Homo sapiens: one gene and its partners. The main gene of each other region encodes a partner of the protein of the gene in region 2 in a complex. Each region holds a gene or a part of one and is shown on either strand. Other genes may lie near its edges. A codon is read from its position in the direction of its gene.

Region 1 (7,417 bases), on a different chromosome or scaffold from region 2:
TTGATGGATATTTGGGTTGGTTCCAAGTCTTTGCTATTGTGAATAGTGCCGCAATAAACATACATGTGCATGTGTCTTTATAGCAGCATGATTTATAATCCTTTGGGTATATACCCAGTAATGGGATGGCTGGGTCAAATGGTATTTCTAGTTTAGATCCCTGAGGAATTGCCACACTGTCTTCCACAATGGTTGAACTAGTTTACAGTCCCACCAACAGTGTGAAAGTGTTCCTATTTCTCCACATGCTCTCTAGCACCTGTTGTTTCCTGACTTTTTAATGATTGCCATTCTAACTGGTGTGAGATGCTATCTCATTGTGGTTTTGATTTGCATTTCTCTGATGACCAGTGATGATGAGCATTTTCTCATGTGTCTGTTGGCTGCATAAATGTCTTCTTTTGAGAAGTGTCTGTTCATGTCCTTTGCCCACTTTTTGATGCGATTGTTTGTTTTTTTCTTGTAAATTTGTTTGAGTTCTTTGCAGATTCTGGATATTAGCCCTTTGTCAGATGAGTAGATTGCAAAAATTTTCTCCCATTCTGTAGGTTGTCTGTTCACTCTGATGGTAGTTTCTTTTGCTGTGCAGAAGCTCTTTAGTTTAATGAGATCCCATTTGTCAATTTTGGCTTTTGTTGCCATTGCTTTTGGTGTTTTAGTCATGAAGTCCTTGCCCATGCCTATGTCCTGAATGGTATTGCCTAGGTTTTCTTCTAGGGTTTTTATGGTTTTAGGTCTGACATTTAAGTCTTTAATCCATCTTGAATTAATTTTTGTATAAGGTGTAAGGAAGGGATCCAGTTTCAGCTTTCTACATATGGCTAGCCAGTTTTCCCAGCACCATTTATTAAATAGGGAATCCTTTCCCCATTGCTTGTTTCTGTCAGGTTTGTTGAAGATCAGATGGTTGTAGATGTGTGGTATTATTTCTGAGGGTTCTGTTCTGTTCCATTGGTCTATATCTCTGTTTTGGTACCAGTACCATGCTGTTTTGGTTACTGTAGCCTTGTAGTATAGTTTGAAGTCAGGTAGCATGATGCCTCCAGCTTTGTTCTTTTGGCTTAGATTTGTCTTGGCAATTCAGGCTCTTTTTTGGTTCCATATGAACTTTAAAGTAGTTTTTTCCAATTCTGTGAAGAAAGTCATTGGTAGCTTGATGGGGATGGTATTGAATCTACAAATTACCTTGGGCAGTATGGCCATTTTCACGATATTGATTCTTCCTATCCATGAACATGGAATGTTCTTCCATTTGTTTGTGTCCTCTTTTATTTCATTGAGCAATGGTTTGTAGTTCTTCTTGAAGAGGTCCTTCACATCCCCTGTAAGTTGGATTCCTGGGTATTTTATTCTCTTTGAAGCAATTGAACTTCCACAGTTATTAACCTTTGACAAATCTTCATATAACTTGTTAAGACATGGAGTCCAAAATACTGTTGGTAATGTAACCAAATTTGGAGATCATGGAGAGTAATTTATGCAGTGTGCTTTGAGTATGAACAATGTATATTCTGTATGTACAAGCCCAGAAAAGTAGCTGGAGACAAGAAGTGCTTAAAGATTAAATTAAATTTGTCTTGGGTGAGGCTATTACAATGATTCCTCATTTAAGCTCATCTTGACATTATTTTCACCATCGTAACCCCAGTTCCTGGTTCAATGCCTAGCATATAGTAGGTGCTCAAAAACTGTTGAATGAATGAGCCTGCTTAGCAGTTTAGATCTCAGCAGCATGAAGAAGCCCATGCATTGTAGTATAAGCAACCTTTGCAGAATGTTTCTTAATGTGTATCTGGTGCTTTCTATGTCCAAGATCTTTACTAGCTGTGTTGGGGCCTACTCCAAGTGCCTTACATGCAGTAACTCCTTTAATTCTTGTAAGAACCCTATGAAGAAGGTACTATTATAATTTTTTTTGTGTTTCATAGATAAGTTACTTGTAAGTTGGTAAAGATCACACAGATCATAAGCGGTAGATCTGGGAATAAAATCCAGAGTCTGTGCACTTAGCTACTACTCTGCTGTGGCATCTGAATAGCATCTATGGAACACTCAACACATTTGGGGCACTTTGCTAGGTGCCTTACTGTTGGGTTAACTCACAAAAGTCACTCCTTTGCAATGCCAGATAACGAGAGGGTGCTGCACATGGAACAGCCTTTCTTTCTTTCTTTTCTATCTTTTTTTTTTTTAACAGACTTTGCCATTTTTTTTGTGAACCTAAGGCACTTCTAAGTGCTGTGTGGGAGGGAATGTGGTAGACTGATTTCATTGAGACTCTGCCAAATTCTGGTCTTGCGGCCATCAAAGACGCATCATTTCCTCCAAGACTTCTAAAGGGGGCTATTACCACGGGCCTGCAGGTTCTGGTTTGCATTCAGAGGAGACACTATCTTCTTAAATGAGACATGGAAGAGGAAGTGTCATGAACTGTAAATAAGGCTGATAGGGAATTGTTTGGTGATGGGGATGGAGAAAAACTGCCCTCTCCAAACCAGGTTCCATCTCCCACCCCTTTATCCAACTTTGCCAGAGTCCATCCTATTTTATTTGCTGAGTTTACTAGCAGGAAGAGAGGAGTTTCTTTAAAGATTCTCTCCCCTCCCCAAATAAATACCTCCCAGATAAATATGAGTACATCTATATAGTAGAGCACTATGCCAACATTGAAAAGATGGAAGGATGGAGCTTTGTTCGCAGCCAGCTTAGGCAACATAGTGAGACCCTGCCTCTATATAAAAATAAATAAATAAATAAATAAATAAATAAATAAATAAAAGATGGAGCTTTAAAGGTTGATGTAGAACGAATCTCCAGTGTATATTATAAAGTGAAGGCTGGGCAGGGTGGCTCGTGCTTGTAATCCCAGCACTTTGGGAGACTGAGGCAGGAGGATGGACTGAGTCCAGGCATTGGAGACCAGCCTGGGCAACATAGTGAGACCTTGTCTCAAATAAATAAATCAAATTTAAAGGGAAAAAAGCCAAGGCTCAAATAGCATTTATACCAAGCAATTGTGGGAAGAGAAGGGTGACATGTCTACATACTTGTGTTTAAGAATCTGCTTGGAAAAAAAAGGAAACATAAAAATGCCTCTGCCAAAAGAAAAGTCTTTTCACTCTAAGCCTTTTTGTGTTTTTCCAAAATTTTTTTTTGCCATATACATTCATTATATTTCAGCATTAAAATATTTCACCTGTCAACTTGGAAAAGTAAAAGCGTGAATACAGTAAATATTTAAAAACAGATGAAGATAAGTAACAGGTTACATTAATTGTATACAATCAATCTAGTTTGAATTAGGTGTAGATATAATAATTCTGTGTGTTTATCTTGGTGAAGAATGGTCCTTTAGGTTGTCATTAAAAAGCACCTCTGGGAGGTAAAAGACATAGGCATCTGGAAGATTCATATTTAATGAAGTTAGGGGACATTTGATGTCACTCCCCAGGTGTGGGGAGATATGGACAGAAAACCAGAAGGAACGAATGTGGTCAGGAAGGAATTGGAGTTCCCCTCCAAACAGCTGCCACAAGAAGTCCACACACGTGGAGACAGTTGTGCAATTTGGTCACAGAGTGTCCTAGGTGCTTTTGCTTCATTGCTCCTCCACTGAAGCACGCTGGCAGCTGGCCTCCTTCCCCTGGGACTAAGGATATCTTGGCTGGAAGCTCTGCTCTGAAAAGGGGCATGGCCAAACTTTCACTAGGGCTCTTCGTTGGGGAGCACGATGGACAAAAGCCTTCTTGGGGCTAGGCAGGTCACTTCAAACTTGGAGCCGCCAAATATTTTGGGAAATAGCGGGAATGTTGGCGAACTGGGCAAGTGCGTTTTCTGATTAAGAGCAACCAGATTCAGCTTTTTAAACTACAATTATACTGGCCAAACAAAATACCCTTATACAAAAACCAAAACTACTGGCAGGAGTCGCTGCCAGCTTGCGACCCGGCATACTTGGCTGAGTATCCGCTTCTCCCTTGTGGCTCCAAACTGCTGCAGATTCTCGGCCACTTCAGACGCGCGCGATGGCGAAGAGGGTCCTGCACTTTGACGCGCCTGGTGAGGGAGCGCTGCTCTTCGCAGCGCTCCTGGTGATGCTCCCCAAATTTCGGGGACCGGCAAGCGATTAAATCTTGGAGTTGCTCAGCGCCCGTTACCGAGTACTTTTTATTTACACCAGAAACAAAGTTGTTGCTCTGGGATGTTCTCTCCTGGGCGACTTGGGGCCCAGCGCAGTCCAGTTGTGTGGGGAAATGGGGAGATGTAAATGGGCTTGGGGAGCTGGAGATCGCCGCCGGGTACCCGGGTGAGGGGCGGGGCTGGCCGCACGGGAGAGCCCCTCCTCCGCTCCGGCCCCGCCCCGCATGGCCCCGCCTCCGCGCTCTAGAGTTTCGGCACCAGCTCCCACCCTGCACTGAGTCCCGGGACCCCGGGAGAGCGGTCAATGTGTGGTCGCTGCGTTTCCTCTGCCTGCGCCGGGCATCACTTGCGCGCCGCAGAAAGTCCGTCTGGCAGCCTGGATATCCTCTCCTACCGGCACCCGCAGACGCCCCTGCAGCCGCGGTCGGCGCCCGGGCTCCCTAGCCCTGTGCGCTCAACTGTCCTGCGCTGCGGGGTGCCGCGAGTTCCACCTCCGCGCCTCCTTCTCTAGACAGGCGCTGGGAGAAAGAACCGGCTCCCGAGTTCTGGGCATTTCGCCCGGCTCGAGGTGCAGGATGCAGAGCAAGGTGCTGCTGGCCGTCGCCCTGTGGCTCTGCGTGGAGACCCGGGCCGCCTCTGTGGGTAAGGAGCCCACTCTGGAGGAGGAAGGCAGACAGGTCGGGTGAGGGCGGAGAGGACCTGAAAGCCAGATCTAACTCGGAATCGTAGAGCTGGAGAGTTGGACAGGACTTGACATTTTGCGATCTTTCATTTACCAGTGGGGAAACTGAGGCTCAGAGACTGGCCCAAGATTACCCAGCGAGTCTGTGGTCGCCTGTGCTCTAGCCCAGTTCCTTTTCTAGGACTCTGGTTTGCGACAGGGACCTCGGCTGGAGCATGTCCTGAGATGCCGACACACCCTCAGGCTCTTGGGAGGCTGGGGTGGGAAGGCGCCTGGGGTTGGCAGGCAGGAGGTGCCTCCGCAGGCGAGAACAGGCGGTGAAAAGTTGTCTGGCTGCGCGCAACATCCTAGTCCGGGCCCGGGGAAGAAAACCTTGCCGGAATCTCAGGCCGGGTCTCCCGGATCGGACGGTACACTCGGTTCTGCCTCTTTGCGGGACCCGGCCCGTTGTTGTCTTCATGCTCGAACACACTTGCACACCACTGTGTGAAGTGGGGTCTGGAGCGGAGAGAAACTTTTTTTCCTTCCTTGGTGCAGGACGCCGCTCTCCTTGCAGAGCGAAGAAGGGGGGGAATAGGGACTTGTCCTGGGGGCTTTGACAGCTTCCCCAAGGGTCTCCAAGTAACAGCCAACTGTCCTGCGTAAAGCATTGCACATCTTTCAAAGCGCTGTGGTCCTTGGTGTAAGCGCATAGTCAGAAGTTCAAGCTCCGAAAACCTTTCCTGTGGGCCTTGGTACCTAGCTTTAGTGCCATTCCTTCCTCTCCCTGCCGCCTAAAATTTCCGTCTCCTTCAATTAGGAACACACACGTTCTTCATGCAATAGCTGTCTGTCTTTTCTTCCTCACTTTCCTTTCTCTCTCAACCCCTTAGATAATATTTCTTTCCTGCAGCCAGTTTGCTGATATCCAGATTTCCACCCTTTGCAGGGTGAGAAAGGGGAAAGGGTCAGAGAAAGAAAAAAAAAAAGTCGAATAATTCAGGGAAAAAAATTTCTTACTCCCTAAGACAAGAATCACATGTCTTAGAAGACACTCACACCCACATACAGTACCAGGATCATCTGTCCATGGTTACTGAATTTTCTTTATAATGACTTGGTTCAACGGGTCCAGTCCACCATGGACACTCATTTGTCCCAGACAAGCCCTCTCTCTCCCCCTTTCTGGGCAGAGAATGAAGGTCTGGAACATGTGGTTGCTCTGTATTCCACAAAGAAGTGAGTTGCTTTTAAGCCTGGGGTGTTTCCTAGCGTAGTAGTAACGGCAGGCCGGTCGCCCTGAATATAATGGTGAACTTGCCCTTTTGGAGTGCATTACTTGCTTAATTGGATTGGGCTGTAATTGGTGCCATCAAATTCTAGAGACAGAGGCACTGTTGTTTTTCCTTCCCGTCTTTGAGCTGGAAGGGTAACAGTGCACAAATTAATTAATATTGGTTATGGGATTTGAACATAGAAGGGCTTTTTATTGAGTAGTAGCATGTGTACCTCTTACAGTTATTTCTTTAGAACTTTCTGAAGAGTCCAGCTCAAGCTTGCCAATGAAAACGAATGACATTTAATGGAGCAAAAACAAAAAACAAAAAACTATGTTGGTCTACAAATATGAATTTGAAGTTATTGAGAGCCTTGTTGAATAGATTTTTGTTGTAAACGTGTCTCTAGAATAGTATGGCATAGTCTCAGCTTCCTATGAATGAAGGACATACCTTTTCTTTTTTAAAATATTTGTTACACAGGAAAGTGTGTCTAGAATGTGATCTGTGGCAATAAATTATGAGAGACCTTCAAGAGTTTCTGATTTTGGTAGCCGAGTGGGCACAGTTTATTGAGAATCATTTTTACTGCCATTTGTTTTCTCACAAGAATGTGCCCAAATAATGGTTTTTTTCTCATTTGGATGGCAGTGTGAATTGTACATCATGTTTTCAGCATCTTTCTCAACCTAGTGTTCCCCAGTCAAGTTTGAAATCTGTGTTATCCAAATGAATTGTTTTCATTTTCCTTTTCTTAGACAAAGTGGGACTCCAGGTTTCATTTTGCTTTTAAACATTTTGGTTTTTTGTTTGCCTGTTTTGGGGGCAGTTATTTCTTTCATATTAAAAAGTACTGTGCAGGCTGGGTGCAGTGGCTCATTCCTGTAATCCCAGCACTTAGGGAAGCAGAGGCAGGAGGATCGCTTGAGTCCAGGAGTTCAAGAAGTGCCTGGGCAACATAGCGAGACCCCATTCTCTATTTAAAACATAAATGTAACCCCCGTTCCACGCACAAAGTACTGTGCAAATTAATTAAACATGACCACCCAGACCAGCAACTGTCCAAGAGTGGCCCATAGACCATCTGTGGTAGGATAATTTGAAATGCTTGTTAAAATGCAGATTTGTAGACCCAGGGATATTCTGACAGAGTCTAAAGTCTTAAGAACAAAACTGTTCTAAACATAAGTCAGTACCAATGCCAGTTAATTTCTGAGATATATTGATATAACTTAGTTTCCAGTTTTTTAAAAACCATATTATTGACTTAAAAACCATGATATTGACCAGTTATGTCAGTAACTTATTTTGCACATCTGTGTGGTGTGTGAGAACATGT
Region 2 (6,795 bases):
AGAGGTTCTGTCGCAGTTGCAAATGAAGGCACAAGGCCTGATACACAGCCCTCCCTCCCACTCCTGCTCCCCATCCAGGCAGGTCTCTGACCTTCTCCCCAAAGTCTGGCCTACCTTTTATCACCCCCGGACCTTCAGGGTCAGACTTGGACAGGGCTGCTGGGCAAAGAGCCTTCCCTCAGGCTTTGCCCCCTGCCGGGGACTGGGAGCCACTGTGAGTGTGGAGACCTTTGGGTCCTGTGCCCTCCACCCAGTCTCGGCTTCCCACCAAAGCCTTGTCAGGGGCTGGGTTTGCCATCCCATGGTGGGCAGCGTGAGGAGAAGAAAGAGCCATCGAGTGCTTGCTGCCCAGACACGCCTGTGTGCGCCCGCGCATGCCTCCCCAGAGACCACCTGCCTCCTGACACTTCCTCCGGGAAGCGGCCCTGTGTGGCTTTGCTTTGGTCGTTCCCCCATCCCTGCCCACCTTACCACTTCTTTTACTCCCCCCACCGCCCCCGCTCTCTCTCTGTCTCTGTTTTTTTATTTTCCAGAAAATCAGTTCGAGGAAAGGGAAAGGGGCAAAAACGAAAGCGCAAGAAATCCCGGTATAAGTCCTGGAGCGTGTACGTTGGTGCCCGCTGCTGTCTAATGCCCTGGAGCCTCCCTGGCCCCCAGTACAACCTCCGCCTGCCATTCCCTGTAACCCTGCCTCCCTCCCCTGGTCCTTCCCTGGCTCTCATCCTCCTGGCCCGTGTCTCTCTCTCACTCTCTCACTCCACTAATTGGCACCAACGGGTAGATTTGGTGGTGGCATTGCTGGTCCAGGGTTGGGGTGAATGGGGGTGCCGACTTGGCCTGGAGGATTAAGGGAGGGGACCCTGGCTTGGCTGGGCACCGATTTTCTCTCACCCACTGGGCACTGGTGGCGGGCCCATGTTGGCACAGGTGCCTGCTCACCCAACTGGTTTCCATTGCTCTAGGCTTCTGCACTCGTCTGGAAGCTGAGGGTGGTGGGGAGGGCAGACATGGCCCAAGAAGGGCTGTGAATGACTGGAGGCAGCTTGCTGAATGACTCCTTGGCTGAAGGAGGAGCTTGGGTGGGATCAGACACCATGTGGCGGCCTCCCTTCATCTGGTGGAAGTGCCCTGGCTCCTCACGGAGGTGGGGCCTCTGGAGGGGAGCCCCCTATTCCGGCCCAACCCATGGCACCCACAGAGGCCTCCTTGCAGGGCAGCCTCTTCCTCTGGGTCGGAGGCTGTGGTGGGCCCTGCCCTGGGCCCTCTGGCCACCAGCGGCCTGGCCTGGGGACACCGCCTCCGGGCTTAGCCTCCCATCACACCCTACTTTAGCCCACCTTGGTGGAAGGGCCTGGACATGAGCCTTGCACGGGGAGAAGGTGGCCCCTGATTGCCATCCCCAGCAGGTGAAGAGTCAAGGCGTGCTCCGATGGGGGCAACAGCAGTTGGGTCCCTGTGGCCTGAGACTCACCCTTGTCTCCCAGAGACACAGCATTGCCCCTTATGGCAGCCTCTCCCTGCACTCTCTGCCCGTCTGTGCCCGCCTCTTCCTGCGGCAGGTGTCCTAGCCAGTGCTGCCTCTTTCCGCCGCTCTCTCTGTCTTTTGCTGTAGCGCTCGGATCCTTCCAGGGCCTGGGGGCTGACCGGCTGGGTGGGGGTGCAGCTGCGGACATGTTAGGGGGTGTTGCATGGTGATTTTTTTTCTCTCTCTCTGCTGATGCTCTAGCTTAGATGTCTTTCCTTTTGCCTTTTTGCAGTCCCTGTGGGCCTTGCTCAGAGCGGAGAAAGCATTTGTTTGTACAAGATCCGCAGACGTGTAAATGTTCCTGCAAAAACACAGACTCGCGTTGCAAGGCGAGGCAGCTTGAGTTAAACGAACGTACTTGCAGGTTGGTTCCCAGAGGGCAAGCAAGTCAGAGAGGGGCATCACACAGAGATGGGGAGAGAGAGAGAGAAAGAGAGTGAGCGAGCGAGCGAGCGGGAGAGCGCCTGAGAGGGGCCAGCTGCTTGCTCAGTTTCTAGCTGCCTGCCTGGTGACTGCTGCCTTCTCTGCTTTTAAGGCCCCTGTGGTGGGCTGCAGGCACTGGTCCAGCCTGGCGGGGCCTGTTCCGAGGTTGCCCTGGTTGCCTGAGTGGTAGGCTGGTGTGGCTTAGTGTAGTGGTGTGGACGCAAGCTGTGTGTTGTGTCCTGTGGTCCTTCTGCTCATAGTGGCTGTTGGTCCTGATGTTATTACTACCTCTGGTAGTAATGCTGAGAAGCTGAAAGCCGATTCCAGGTGTGGACAATGTCAACAAAGCACAGATGCTCTCGCTGGGGCCTTGCCTCGGCCCTTTGAAGTCTGCATGGCTGGGCTTCTCACTCACTCAGTGTTTCTTGCTGGGGGAAGGAATTGAGTCTCCCACTTCAGACTGGGCCTCCCTGAGGAAAGGGTTGTGTCTCCCCACTCAGACTGAGGTTCCCTGAGGGTAGGGCTGTGTCTCTCCCCTCCGACCTGGGCTCCCTGATAGGGCTGTCTCCCCGCTCAGACTGAGGCTCCCTCAGGCCAGGGCTATGTCTCCCTCCTCAGACTGGGGCTCTGAGGGCAAGGGGTCTGGCTGTTCGTTTAGGATGGGGCACTTTTGCCTACACACTGAAGGAGCTGTAGCATCCAAGAATACTAGATACCTTTAATCCTCCACCAGTCATGGTGACAACCCCAAGCAGCCCACACATTTTCAAGTGCCCCCAGGATGCGTGGAGGGAGGGGTCTGTGCCCATTCTCCTGACATTAGCCTGTGAGCTCCGTAAGCCCGGGCCTCGTTTACGTACCTTTGTGAGCCCCGGGCATCTGTACCTCTTTCCTTTGCCCATACTGGGGACCAAGGAAGTGTCAAGTGCATGAGTGAATGTGTGACTCAGTTCAGAGGGTGAGGTCAGGAGCACAGGGTCGGGACAGGTGGCTGGCATCTTTTAATGCCTTAGCTTATGTTCTTTATACCAACTTGGCCTGTGCTCAGAGTGAGGGAGGCCCTGGGGGTCAGGGTAAGCGTCAGTCAGGGAGGCAAGACTTTGTGGGGATTTCCTAGACAGGGCCAAGGCACCCCCAGCTCACCCCGAGGCTGTGTTAGGGAAGTCCTTGGAGTGTCTCCCCTCCCCCAGCAATGTTCTTGTGGCTTGTGTGTGCTCAGGGGATGCTGGGAACCAGGCCTGGGTAGTTGGTGTGGGGTGCTGTCTGTCTTGGCCCTATGTGAAACCAAGAGGGCGTATATTAGTGCTGGGGTGGGGGCTCTGCCTAACTTCAGGGCTGGATGAGGGGAGTCTCAGTTCCCCAGGGGTCCTTGGGAAAGATAAGGGACTTGACATTTTAGGGTTTTTAGGTGATTATTCTGCTGATGGGGGTTTGTGTGAAGTGACCTGGGAGCTAACTGAAGTTACTCTAACCTCCCAATACCTTTACCCAACCCCCAAGCTGGCTGTATCTGGGAATATCAGTTTCCAAAATTGGAGGCTTAGGACTCCGTTTCGGGGCTCCCCAGAAGGGTAGGGCCTGTTCTGCCTCCTTCTCACAATCACCCAGGGGCAGGGGCATGCTGAGAAAGTTCTTGGAGGCCCCCTTTGCTTCAGCTGGAGTAGTGAAGCCGCCGAATTGTCTCTCCCCATCCTAAGTGAAGCAGCATATTTGAAAGGAAAGACAACCTGTTACCTGGGCCTGCAACCTCCAGGCAGCTCAAGAGAGATGAGGCCTACAGCCACAGTGGGAGGGGACATGGGGAATGGAGATGGTCCCTCACCTTCCTGGGGCCTCCTGCTCTACGCTACCCCCTCGGGAGCCTCCTGTCCCCAGGGCAGGCCCTTGCCATTGTTGGTCACCCGGCCAAGCCTCTCTGCCTCAGGCGTTCTCCCAGAAGATCTGCCCACTCTCTTCCCCACACCAGCCCCTAGAGACTGAACTGAAAACCCTCCTCAGCAGGGAGCCTCTTCTGATTAACTTCATCCAGCTCTGGTCACCCATCAGCTCTTAAAATGTCAAGTGGGGACTGTTCTTTGGTATCCGTTCATTTGTTGCTTTGTAAAGTGTTCCCATGTCCTTGTCTTGTCTCAAGTAGATTGCAAGCTCAGGAGGGTAGACTGGGAGCCCCTGAGTGGAGCTGCTGCTCAGGCCGGGGCTCCCTGAGGGCAGGGCTGGGGCTGTTCTCATACTGGGGCTTTCTGCCCCAGGACCACACCTTCCTGTCCTCTCTGCTCTTATGGTGCCGGAGGCTGCAGTGACCCAGGGGCCCCCAGGAATGGGGAGGCCGCCTGCCTCATCGCCAGGCCTCCTCACTTGGCCCTAACCCCAGCCTTTGTTTTCCATTTCCCTCAGATGTGACAAGCCGAGGCGGTGAGCCGGGCAGGAGGAAGGAGCCTCCCTCAGGGTTTCGGGAACCAGATCTCTCACCAGGAAAGACTGATACAGAACGATCGATACAGAAACCACGCTGCCGCCACCACACCATCACCATCGACAGAACAGTCCTTAATCCAGAAACCTGAAATGAAGGAAGAGGAGACTCTGCGCAGAGCACTTTGGGTCCGGAGGGCGAGACTCCGGCGGAAGCATTCCCGGGCGGGTGACCCAGCACGGTCCCTCTTGGAATTGGATTCGCCATTTTATTTTTCTTGCTGCTAAATCACCGAGCCCGGAAGATTAGAGAGTTTTATTTCTGGGATTCCTGTAGACACACCCACCCACATACATACATTTATATATATATATATTATATATATATAAAAATAAATATCTCTATTTTATATATATAAAATATATATATTCTTTTTTTAAATTAACAGTGCTAATGTTATTGGTGTCTTCACTGGATGTATTTGACTGCTGTGGACTTGAGTTGGGAGGGGAATGTTCCCACTCAGATCCTGACAGGGAAGAGGAGGAGATGAGAGACTCTGGCATGATCTTTTTTTTGTCCCACTTGGTGGGGCCAGGGTCCTCTCCCCTGCCCAGGAATGTGCAAGGCCAGGGCATGGGGGCAAATATGACCCAGTTTTGGGAACACCGACAAACCCAGCCCTGGCGCTGAGCCTCTCTACCCCAGGTCAGACGGACAGAAAGACAGATCACAGGTACAGGGATGAGGACACCGGCTCTGACCAGGAGTTTGGGGAGCTTCAGGACATTGCTGTGCTTTGGGGATTCCCTCCACATGCTGCACGCGCATCTCGCCCCCAGGGGCACTGCCTGGAAGATTCAGGAGCCTGGGCGGCCTTCGCTTACTCTCACCTGCTTCTGAGTTGCCCAGGAGACCACTGGCAGATGTCCCGGCGAAGAGAAGAGACACATTGTTGGAAGAAGCAGCCCATGACAGCTCCCCTTCCTGGGACTCGCCCTCATCCTCTTCCTGCTCCCCTTCCTGGGGTGCAGCCTAAAAGGACCTATGTCCTCACACCATTGAAACCACTAGTTCTGTCCCCCCAGGAGACCTGGTTGTGTGTGTGTGAGTGGTTGACCTTCCTCCATCCCCTGGTCCTTCCCTTCCCTTCCCGAGGCACAGAGAGACAGGGCAGGATCCACGTGCCCATTGTGGAGGCAGAGAAAAGAGAAAGTGTTTTATATACGGTACTTATTTAATATCCCTTTTTAATTAGAAATTAAAACAGTTAATTTAATTAAAGAGTAGGGTTTTTTTTCAGTATTCTTGGTTAATATTTAATTTCAACTATTTATGAGATGTATCTTTTGCTCTCTCTTGCTCTCTTATTTGTACCGGTTTTTGTATATAAAATTCATGTTTCCAATCTCTCTCTCCCTGATCGGTGACAGTCACTAGCTTATCTTGAACAGATATTTAATTTTGCTAACACTCAGCTCTGCCCTCCCCGATCCCCTGGCTCCCCAGCACACATTCCTTTGAAATAAGGTTTCAATATACATCTACATACTATATATATATTTGGCAACTTGTATTTGTGTGTATATATATATATATATGTTTATGTATATATGTGATTCTGATAAAATAGACATTGCTATTCTGTTTTTTATATGTAAAAACAAAACAAGAAAAAATAGAGAATTCTACATACTAAATCTCTCTCCTTTTTTAATTTTAATATTTGTTATCATTTATTTATTGGTGCTACTGTTTATCCGTAATAATTGTGGGGAAAAGATATTAACATCACGTCTTTGTCTCTAGTGCAGTTTTTCGAGATATTCCGTAGTACATATTTATTTTTAAACAACGACAAAGAAATACAGATATATCTTAAAAAAAAAAAAGCATTTTGTATTAAAGAATTTAATTCTGATCTCAAAGCTCCTCTTGGTTTCTCCTTCTCCATTGAATCCTTGCTCTAGACTTCCTCCCGCCCCCTTTCCCTCTTCCTCTGGGGAACATGGCATTTGTCTTGGGTCTGGGAAAGGTACGTCTAATGTGTAGGATATGGGGTGACCCACCTTGTTGTGCTGGGGGCAAAGTCCTTCCATTTTGGCTGAGCTGGTCCTGGGGGAACCCATCCATCCTGTCTTGATATAGAAGGTGGGAAGCTCTGGGAATGGGTGGAGGGGGAGAAACAGCTTAGGAGCCAAGGGCCCTTGCAATTGGTAGTGCTGCCTTCAGGAATTAGATGATCCAGGCCCCTGTCCCTTAGCCAGGGAAAGAACTGGCCATGTCTCCAAGCTTGCTGCCCAGGAGACAGGAGAGAGCTGTTTTTGTCTGTGGGGGTCTTGTTGGCTGCAACAGGCTGGGAGTGGGAGGGGGATGCTGCTGGAGGGCTGTGACTCCAGGGTGTAACTTAATTTTACATAGTTTTACACCCTGG
Region 3 (7,944 bases), on a different chromosome or scaffold from region 2:
ATAAAGACCCTGACTCCTGGTGAGTGCTCTGGGAAAGTCATCCAAGAGAGCGTAGAAAGAACATGGGATGATAGACAATAATATGAATATAAGCTAGCTCTTCTCTTCCTTAACCAAACAGACAGTGAGCATTTTCAAATGCTGCCTTGGTAATCAGAACTTCTGCTGATACTGGGGTTCCTTTCTTGGCAAACAAGTATGGTAACCACAGAGATTGATAAGGGTGTGAATTTCTATGGGTTTCTATGGGAATTATTCAGCTCTGGTCTTTTGATTCTGAGGCTGAGTTGTCCAACATGGTAGCTGGTAAGCACATGCGGCAATTTACATTTAAATGAATAAAATTAAATACAACCTACAGTTCAGTGACTCACTCACACTAGCCACATTTCCAGTGCGCAGTAGCCATGTGAACAGCACAGAGACCACCGTCCTTGCAGAAGATTTAATGGAGAGTGCTGTTTTAAGGGAGAGGGTTGACTGGGTCTTTTTGATACGCTTATTGCCTCAAAGGTAGAAAAATTAATGTAGCATAGGAAGATCAGACTCATGCTAAAGCCAGGCAGACTGGAAGAAGCAATAGGGCTTCTTTAGGTTCTTTTTCCAAGGATTCCAGGGAGGTCTGAATGAATTTTGCACATTTTGCTGCTGCTTTTTAAATTTTGTTTCATAAGGGCCCCTCCTACCAGATCCAGTGTTTGTGTCTGAGGAAGAAATGAGATATACACCCAGTATGGAGTGAAGGAGATTTCAATACTTTATGGAAATCTGTAAGGATTCCAGAAACCCACCAAATAGAATATACTAGAAATATCAATTTAGAATAGAAATGTCAAATAGAAACTACTGGGCAATATTCAAGTGTGCTGGAAAAAAAAAAAGTTGATTGTTTAAAAGGCGAGTAAGAAAAAAAAAAAAACCCTTAGTGACCAGAAACCTGGACTTTGACATCAAACAAAAGAGAGAATAATAAATTAGGACCTATTCCATTTTAACTGAAGCTTTGCTTCTGAGACAGATGTAGCTAAACCTTAACTAGGGCAGTGTGTTAAATTACAGATTAAGATGCAATTATGCCTTAGATCTTTCCTTTTCAGGGTGAGAGCTTATTGATGTTAGGGCTCCGATAAGGGGAAGCACCATGTGACACGTGATATCTATTGTGGAAGCATGAAACTTCTGGAGCTTTTAGATCCTGTGTTCCCGAGAGGCAAGACCTAAATCTCTGTCTTGCTCGCATACCTCTGGCATAGTCATGCATCCATGAACATTTCGTAAGTACAGTGGGATGAACACAGATGGAAAAGCATACCTGAAACGAACCTCTAGTAACCACCAATGGTTGAGTGGGCTGGTGATGAAAGGTCTGGCTCCAGCTCATAAACCCATCAGCCGCTACTTTGAACATGTCCCTGCAAAGCTCCTGCCTGCATGAGGCGAGGCTTTTGGTGTTTTCAAATTGGCTCTCTGCAGTTGCTGCTAAAGGTCACAGGTAAATCTGGGAATTCCACCACTGCAGCATTTTCGAGAACTTGTTCTTGGTGGTTTTTCCAAGAAACCTGAAACATCTGCCCCATATTGAAAAGTACCCAGAGAGGAAATGTGAAGGAATGCTTGTCCAGGTTTCCTTCAACGGAAGAGCATTTATGGAAGGCTGTGTGTAAATAGAACACATCAGATCAGAAGTTCCCAACTACTGGTCTGTGGAGGCTTTGCATCAGAATCACCTAAGATGTGTGTTAAAAATACAGATTCCCAAAGACCACTCCAGACCCAAGGAATTTCACCTGCAGGAAAATGGTTCCCAGGAATCAGAATTTTTAACACTTCCTCCAGGTGATGCTGATATACCCTAAGGTTTGGGACTGTCTAGCTGGGAACACTTAACTTTCCACAGGGGTGTGGCTTGGTAACAGCTTTCTCTTAGCATCATTTACCAACCTGTTTCATGTTCCCCCACATCCCTTCCCGTCAAAGGAATGGAATGTGGAGTGGATTATCTAGTATTATTTTACAACTAAGGATAATGACATGAAACATCCTAGGTGAGTCAGTGATGTGGCCAGGAATCTCAGCTTCGCTAATTAGCTGTTATCTAGTCAGCTCAGTGTTTTTGATCACAAACCCGATTTTTGACACTGGCCTTTAGGTAGGCAGGCTTCCCTATGGGCCAGGGATGTGGACTCACAAAATACTGAAAAGCACGGTGCCTACCTAGCTCTTTACCACTATACCTCTGGTGGAAACCAGACCAACTGCAGTCAAACCCTGAGATCCCAGTCTAGAGGGAAACAAGACTGGCAGGTCTGAGCCAGTCCCAGTGTGAAGAATTTCCCTAAAGATTTGTTTTCCATGTGGCACATGTGAGATTTGTGTTTAGTTCCCAAGAGTCCTTGGAAGTCTTAGGTTAAAACAATTCTAAGCCCTCTCTGGGCCGGTGGGGTCTTGTTCAGAGTAGGCTGGGGAGAGATCGGCCTCACTCTGAATCTTCCCTGGTCTGATAAAGCACTTTGAACTCCTTGGAATTAAAAGCACCACCAGAAGTGTGACCCTGGGTGGTGTTACCATTATTTATTGAGTGCTGCCCCCTAGAGGATTGAAAAATGGTCTGGCCGCTTGAGTCCCCAGGGATGGAAACCTGAGACTCACTCTCTGTCCAACTGCAGGAAATGAGGCCTTCACTCAAGGGGAGTGGGAAGTCTTGCAGCCCTGGTACAGAGGACTCCCAGGAAGTAAGTGAGCGTCCCCTGTAGGACACCGCTGAAAAATGAAAAGTTACAGTGTAGGCAACCAGGCCAGGAACAAAACTGATTCTTACTTTTCTCTACTCTGGAAGCAGCCTGATGGGGACCTTCATCCCTGAGACCCCAAGACCAGAAGTCCAGGGTTGTCATTCTTATGGTTCTCCAGTGGGCTTAGGTTTACCTTTTCTCTCTTCTTTCCCCCTTTCACAGTGCCCTTCACCTAAACCCTGGCTACATTATTCTCACAAACAGGAGTCTCCCACATTGGGCACTGGCAAAAATGGTTTGGCATGCCTGGTGAGTGGTGGGGAGAGGTGATATTAAATGGCCCTCTCTATTCAGGGACTGTCACTACAGATAGCGTTCTTTGTCCTTAGATTAGCATCTTGGCAATGACATAAACCGGGATCTCTGCTTAAGGTTAATAATCCAAACTGCTCTTTTACTTTGTTAAATATTTAAGGCTTGGAGTCATTCTTTACAATTGAGCTTTAAAGAGGAGAAATGTAAATCTGGAGTTTTTAATAATGTGGATGTGCTCTCAAGCCTAGAAAGGAAGGAAGAAGGAAGGAAAGGAGGGAGGAAGAGGAAGGAGGGAGGCAAAGAGGGAATGAAAGGTAGCATTTAGGCTAGCCAAGAGACATGCTCCCTGGAAGAACTCAGAGGCCTCTGTGCTGTGCCTTTCCCAACCAGGCATCTGAGATTAACAGTGTGATACTCAGCCTGTGGATTTCCACTCTAAAATCCCGCGCCACCCCCCAACACAGCTTGGCTCAACTATTTGCAAATCACTTCTGATTCAATTTTGTTTTGGTTATCTCAGTGTAAATAACAGTTAAGTGGGAGTTACAGATTTTTCAAACACTAAAAGTGATAAAGCTAATGGGCAAGTCCAGATAAGGAGGGAAACCACCCAGAAGAATCCACAAGTACAAGCCAAGAAGAAAATGGGTAGTCAGGTGTGTGTTTCTCGTCACCGAAACTGTATTTTTCTTAATCTACAGAAAATTTTACTTTCTTAATTTAAAAAAAATCTTAATCTGTAAATATTTTTCTGAATTTTCTTATTTTTCATATACCTCTTTTGTGGCAGAAAAGGTGTACATGTGCAGGGTGTAATTTAGGCTGTTTCTGTTGCAGTCTTTATGATAATGTAGTAATAGGTGTCTGGTGAAGCAAGACAGTTTGGAATCCACAAAGCCATCCTCAGAAACAAAGATACAAGTGTTTCCCCAACTGTTAGCTTGCAGTTCCCTCTAAACAGTTTTCACGCCTCCATTTAAAAATAGTTGGCATAATGATGTTTTCTTTCTCTAGGCTTTGTGACCACGTTTCCATGGGGGAAAATGTGAATAGACGTAGTTACAGTAGCATTTGGATGAGACGCCTTCAAGCACCTATACTTTTTCGGGGGAACTTGATGGAATCCAATTTAATTACCTGAAGAAATTATTTGCTGAAGAAAGTCTTTCCTCTTTTTAGGGTAGTTACAGTTAAAGGCGCAGGGGTAACGAAATCCTAACCCAGAGAGGAGCAGAGCATGTTTGGGACATAACAAAGGATCTGAGTAGTAAACGCAGCGAGTGTTTGGGGTTTTATTCAGACCGGGCTGACGGTGTGTGTCGCCGCCACGCACCGCTGCCTGTTCGAACGCATGGCTGAGCTGCCGACCGGCTCGCTACCCCAAACACCGTACGCCACCCAACTCCTCTTGTAACGCCATCGCGCGTGGCATTGTGTTGGGTTCTGCGTGTGTGGCATCGGAGTCGTGGAATTTAGGGGGAACAAGGCTTTTCCCCCCGTCCCCCCGGGGTCTCCCTTGGGTGGGGGCGACACGGCCAAGGCGGCGCGCCCTGGGGGTGCCCGGGGGCGCTTCTTCCCCAGGGCGTTACGCACCGGCGGCCCGGCGCGGAGGTGCGCGGGGGCGATCGGGAGATGCGGGGCGGGCGAGGGGTGGTGGGATGGGCGCCGCCTTAACTTCGATCCTGCGGCGGCCCGAGAGAAGCCGTCGCCGCCCCGCCCGAGCTGGGTGCCGCGGCACTCTGCTCTGCGCCGCGCGTCTCCGCGGCTGCCTCTTTAATCAGGAACACAGAAGGGGCGGGCCCTGAGCCGGCGCGTAATCGGATAGCTCTGCCGCGGCTCTGACATCCACATGCTGCTCGGCCTGAAAAGGCAGTGGGGAGCCGGAGGGGAGGCAGAGATCGCGAGCGAGGCACCAGCCTGCAGCCGGCCCCCAGCACATCCTCAGCCGCACAGACACTCGGCGAGGTGGAGGTGAGGGCGGGCGCCAGCGAACTCGGAGAGGGGCTCGCTCACTCCCAGGCGATCCCAGCCGCCACCGCCGCCGCACCAGCAGCAGCAACAGCAGCAGCAGCTTCCTTCCTCAGACTCCCCTCGAGAGGCTGGCCAAGCGGGTGTAGCCGTTGGGGGAGGCTCCCGCCGGGGGAACCCGGCGAGGACAAGAGCAGGGCGGCCGCCTTCCACTCGGGCTGTCCGGCGGCGGCTGCCTCCGCCCGTGTGTCCGTCAAGGGTGCCGCGGGATGTGTGTCAGTTTACGCCTCTGAGATCACACAGCTGCCTGGGGGCCGTGTGATGCCCAAGGCAAGTCTTGGTTTTAATTATTATTATTATCATTATTGTTACGCTTGGCTTTCGGGAAATACTCGTGATATTTGTAGGATAAAGGAAATGACACTTTGAGGAACTGGAGAGAACATATATGCGTTTTGTTTTTAAGAGGAAAACCGTGTTCTCTTCCCGGCTTGTTCCCTCTTTGCTGATTTCAGGAGCTACTCTCCTCCTGGTGAGGTGGAAATTCCAGCAAGAATAGAGGTGAAGACAAGCCACCAGGACTCAGGAGGGAAACGCTGACCATTAGAAACCTCTGCATAAGACGTTGTAAGGAGGAAAATAAAAGAGAGAAAAACACAAAGATTTAAACAAGAAACCTACGAACCCAGCTCTGGAAAGAGCCACCTTCTCCAAAATGGATATGTTTCCTCTCACCTGGGTTTTCTTAGCCCTCTACTTTTCAAGACACCAAGTGAGAGGCCAACCAGGTAAGCCACTGAAAGTTTTTCTATTTATTGCAACATGGTTTCCCCTTTAAAAGTGACCGCTAAAGCAGGAAGGCCACGCAGAACGGCACAGAAGAAGGCTCCCTCAGTACTCAATAATTTAAAGAGAGATCCCAGCCGGCCCTTCCTACACCACCACGGCTGCTAAAACCCAACTTTCCTCTCCTGCTAGGAGTGTGTGTGTGTGTGTGTGTGTGTGTGTGTGAGTGTGTTTTGAAACAGAATTTGGCGGTGTTCATATGTCACATATGGACTGAATCAAAGGTTTAAAAATACTACAAAGCCTTTGCATTACAGTTTTTGGGAATTTTTTTTCCCTGTCTTGAAGCAGAACACATCTCCCTTGAGTTTCTCCAACTAGCCAGTGAAATATAAATCATTTGCATTCCCTCCACTTAGCTACATTGAGCAATGTTAACTGAAGGGCTTGGGAAAGACAAGAGTTTAGTTTTGGTTTTCAGATGCTGTAGATTCTTTGGAGAATGACTGGTTATGCTTCAGAATCATAAGGCTCAGGCTGGTGGAGCAAGTTGGCTTGTGGCTGAGATAGGGGCTTGGGGTTGGGTGCTGCTGGCAACCAAGACGGTTGGTCTCTTCTCTCTTCATCCATGTGTTGTCTGGGAAAGTAAATCGTACGTTCTTTTAGAAATTATTATTAGCTAAAACAAATTGCAGGCCCTCGAAGGTCTCTCACTCTTGTGAAGTGGTTAGAAACTTTTGAGTGGAATTTGTTCTCAACCACTGCCAAAAAGGGTGTGTGGACAGGCTGCTGTGGAGATAAGCATTTCGAGGCCCAGAACAGTCTGGGGACCGCATTTGTGGGGAGCGGCAAGGGGTATGCTCTGGAAAGGGGAATCCATGGGGAATGCAGTGGGGTTTGTGCTTCCTTCTCGGACCACTCTCTAGAGTGAGCCTCCCTACCCCTCTGAGAACAGTGTCTGGAATCTAACAACAAAACTCTTAGCAGCTGCTACAGGTGATTGGAGATGGAGAAACCATCTATGGAGGAAATGGGTGAAAGAAAGGCGAAAAAGCCTTCCTGAAGTGCCCTCACCCAAGGCACTTGCAAGGCGATGGCGGCAGTGGTAGAGCTAACTCTGCAGCCTCCTTGGCATCCCCAGAACATCAGCTAGTGGATCCTAGCCTTGCATCTGGTACTGTCACCCTTCCTTCTCCTCACGCCCCCCACCAGCACACACACCACTTTAAGCTTGGGCATTTATTTGAGGGGGGAAGAAAATTCAGGAATGCCTTTGCCACCCAGATCCGCACGTTTGCAGCTCTTTCTTTGCCATAAGTGGTCTTCAGGGCAGCTGCAAATCCTGCCAAAGGGATGGGTGGGGGTCCCACTTGGGGAGATTTTCTGGGCCTCCGCCGTTCCCCCTTGCCTTATTTCTAAATTCCCAGCTTGAAGCGGAATTAAATTACCACTCACAGACCTGGATGCTGCGTAAATTATGTATGTTTGTGTGATTCGCTGTGTGTGTGTGCACACGCGCGCGCGCCGTGAGGATGCCCACAGTATATTATGTATTCAGACACGGACTCCAGTAGGCCCCAGCGCGCGAGCGCGCACACACTGGCACTCACACTGGCGCGCACACACATGCAACTTCAGGTTCCGTGTGCTGTGCGGAGCGGGAGGGGTCGTGAAGACTCAGGGGCCATCTCCTACCCCAGATGTTCGCACATCTGTCCCCGAGCGCTGCTTGGAGTGTGTGTACGTGTGTGCGCGACACCCGCTTGGACCCACTCCCGCTCTGCCACCTGCCTGCCGCGCTCTCTGCAGAACCCCCTCCCATCCCAATCCCCAGCAGTGCTGCGTCACTTCCAGAGAAGCCCAGAGGCGCGGAGTTCGGGGCAACCTCGGACCCGGGGTGGGATCTCAGGGTGGGATTCGAAGCTGGGACCTGCCAGGGACCTCCAGCTCCCCAAAATGCGATCTCAAGCCGTGAGCTGCTCAGGCTTTCAGGCGGAGCAAAGCACTGGCACCCTGGGAGCCGGCAGCGGGTGGCCAGGGCGAGGCCAAGCCACATACCTCTGACTCACCCGGTGTGCGCCGGCCGGGAAGGGGGCCTGGTTCAGCCGCCGCCGCCGGCGACGAGAACCAATTCTGGGAAGGA

Evidence for each region.
Region 1: the proteins of VEGFA (region 2) and KDR are in contact, whole or in part, in a crystal structure (PDB 3V2A), measured with the Homo sapiens proteins. Residues at the interface, in NP_003367.4 of Homo sapiens: Pro246, Asp247, Ile249, Glu250, Ile252, Lys254, Met287, Ile289, Pro291, His292, Gln295, Ile297; in NP_002244.1 of Homo sapiens: His133, Val135, Tyr137, Ile215, Val216, Val217, Val218, Val219, Gly220, Tyr221, Asn253, Gly255, Ile256, Asp257, Phe258, Val273, Asn274, Arg275, Asp276, Phe288, Ser311, Gly312, Leu313.
Region 3: the proteins of VEGFA (region 2) and NRP2 are in contact, whole or in part, in a crystal structure (PDB 5DN2), measured with the Homo sapiens proteins. Residues at the interface, in NP_003367.4 of Homo sapiens: Lys392 (codon at 4,350), Pro393 (codon at 4,353), Arg394 (codon at 4,356), Arg395 (codon at 4,359); in NP_957718.1 of Homo sapiens: Tyr299, Ser300, Asp301, Trp304, Thr319, Asp323, Ser349, Glu351, Thr352, Asn354, Tyr356, Gly417, Ile418.

Annotation. Positions count from the first base shown.
Region 1 is NC_000004.12:55,122,592-55,130,008, reverse strand, and holds the start of KDR (vascular endothelial growth factor receptor 2 precursor), read left to right. Parts: upstream 1-4,413; 5' UTR 4,414-4,715; coding exon 4,716-4,782; intron 4,783-7,417. UniProt on the Homo sapiens protein: Tyrosine-protein kinase that acts as a cell-surface receptor for VEGFA, VEGFC and VEGFD. Plays an essential role in the regulation of angiogenesis, vascular development, vascular permeability, and embryonic hematopoiesis.
Region 2 is NC_000006.12:43,780,199-43,786,993, forward strand, and holds the end of VEGFA (vascular endothelial growth factor A, long form), read left to right. Parts: intron 1-533; coding exon 534-605; coding exon of another isoform or gene 606-656; intron 657-1,757; coding exon 1,758-1,889; intron 1,890-4,342; coding exon 4,343-4,364; coding exon of another isoform or gene 4,365-4,430; 3' UTR 4,431-6,289; downstream 6,290-6,795.
Region 3 is NC_000002.12:205,677,561-205,685,504, forward strand, and holds the start of NRP2 (neuropilin-2 isoform 2 precursor), read left to right. Parts: upstream 1-4,940; 5' UTR 4,941-5,730; coding exon 5,731-5,803; intron 5,804-7,944.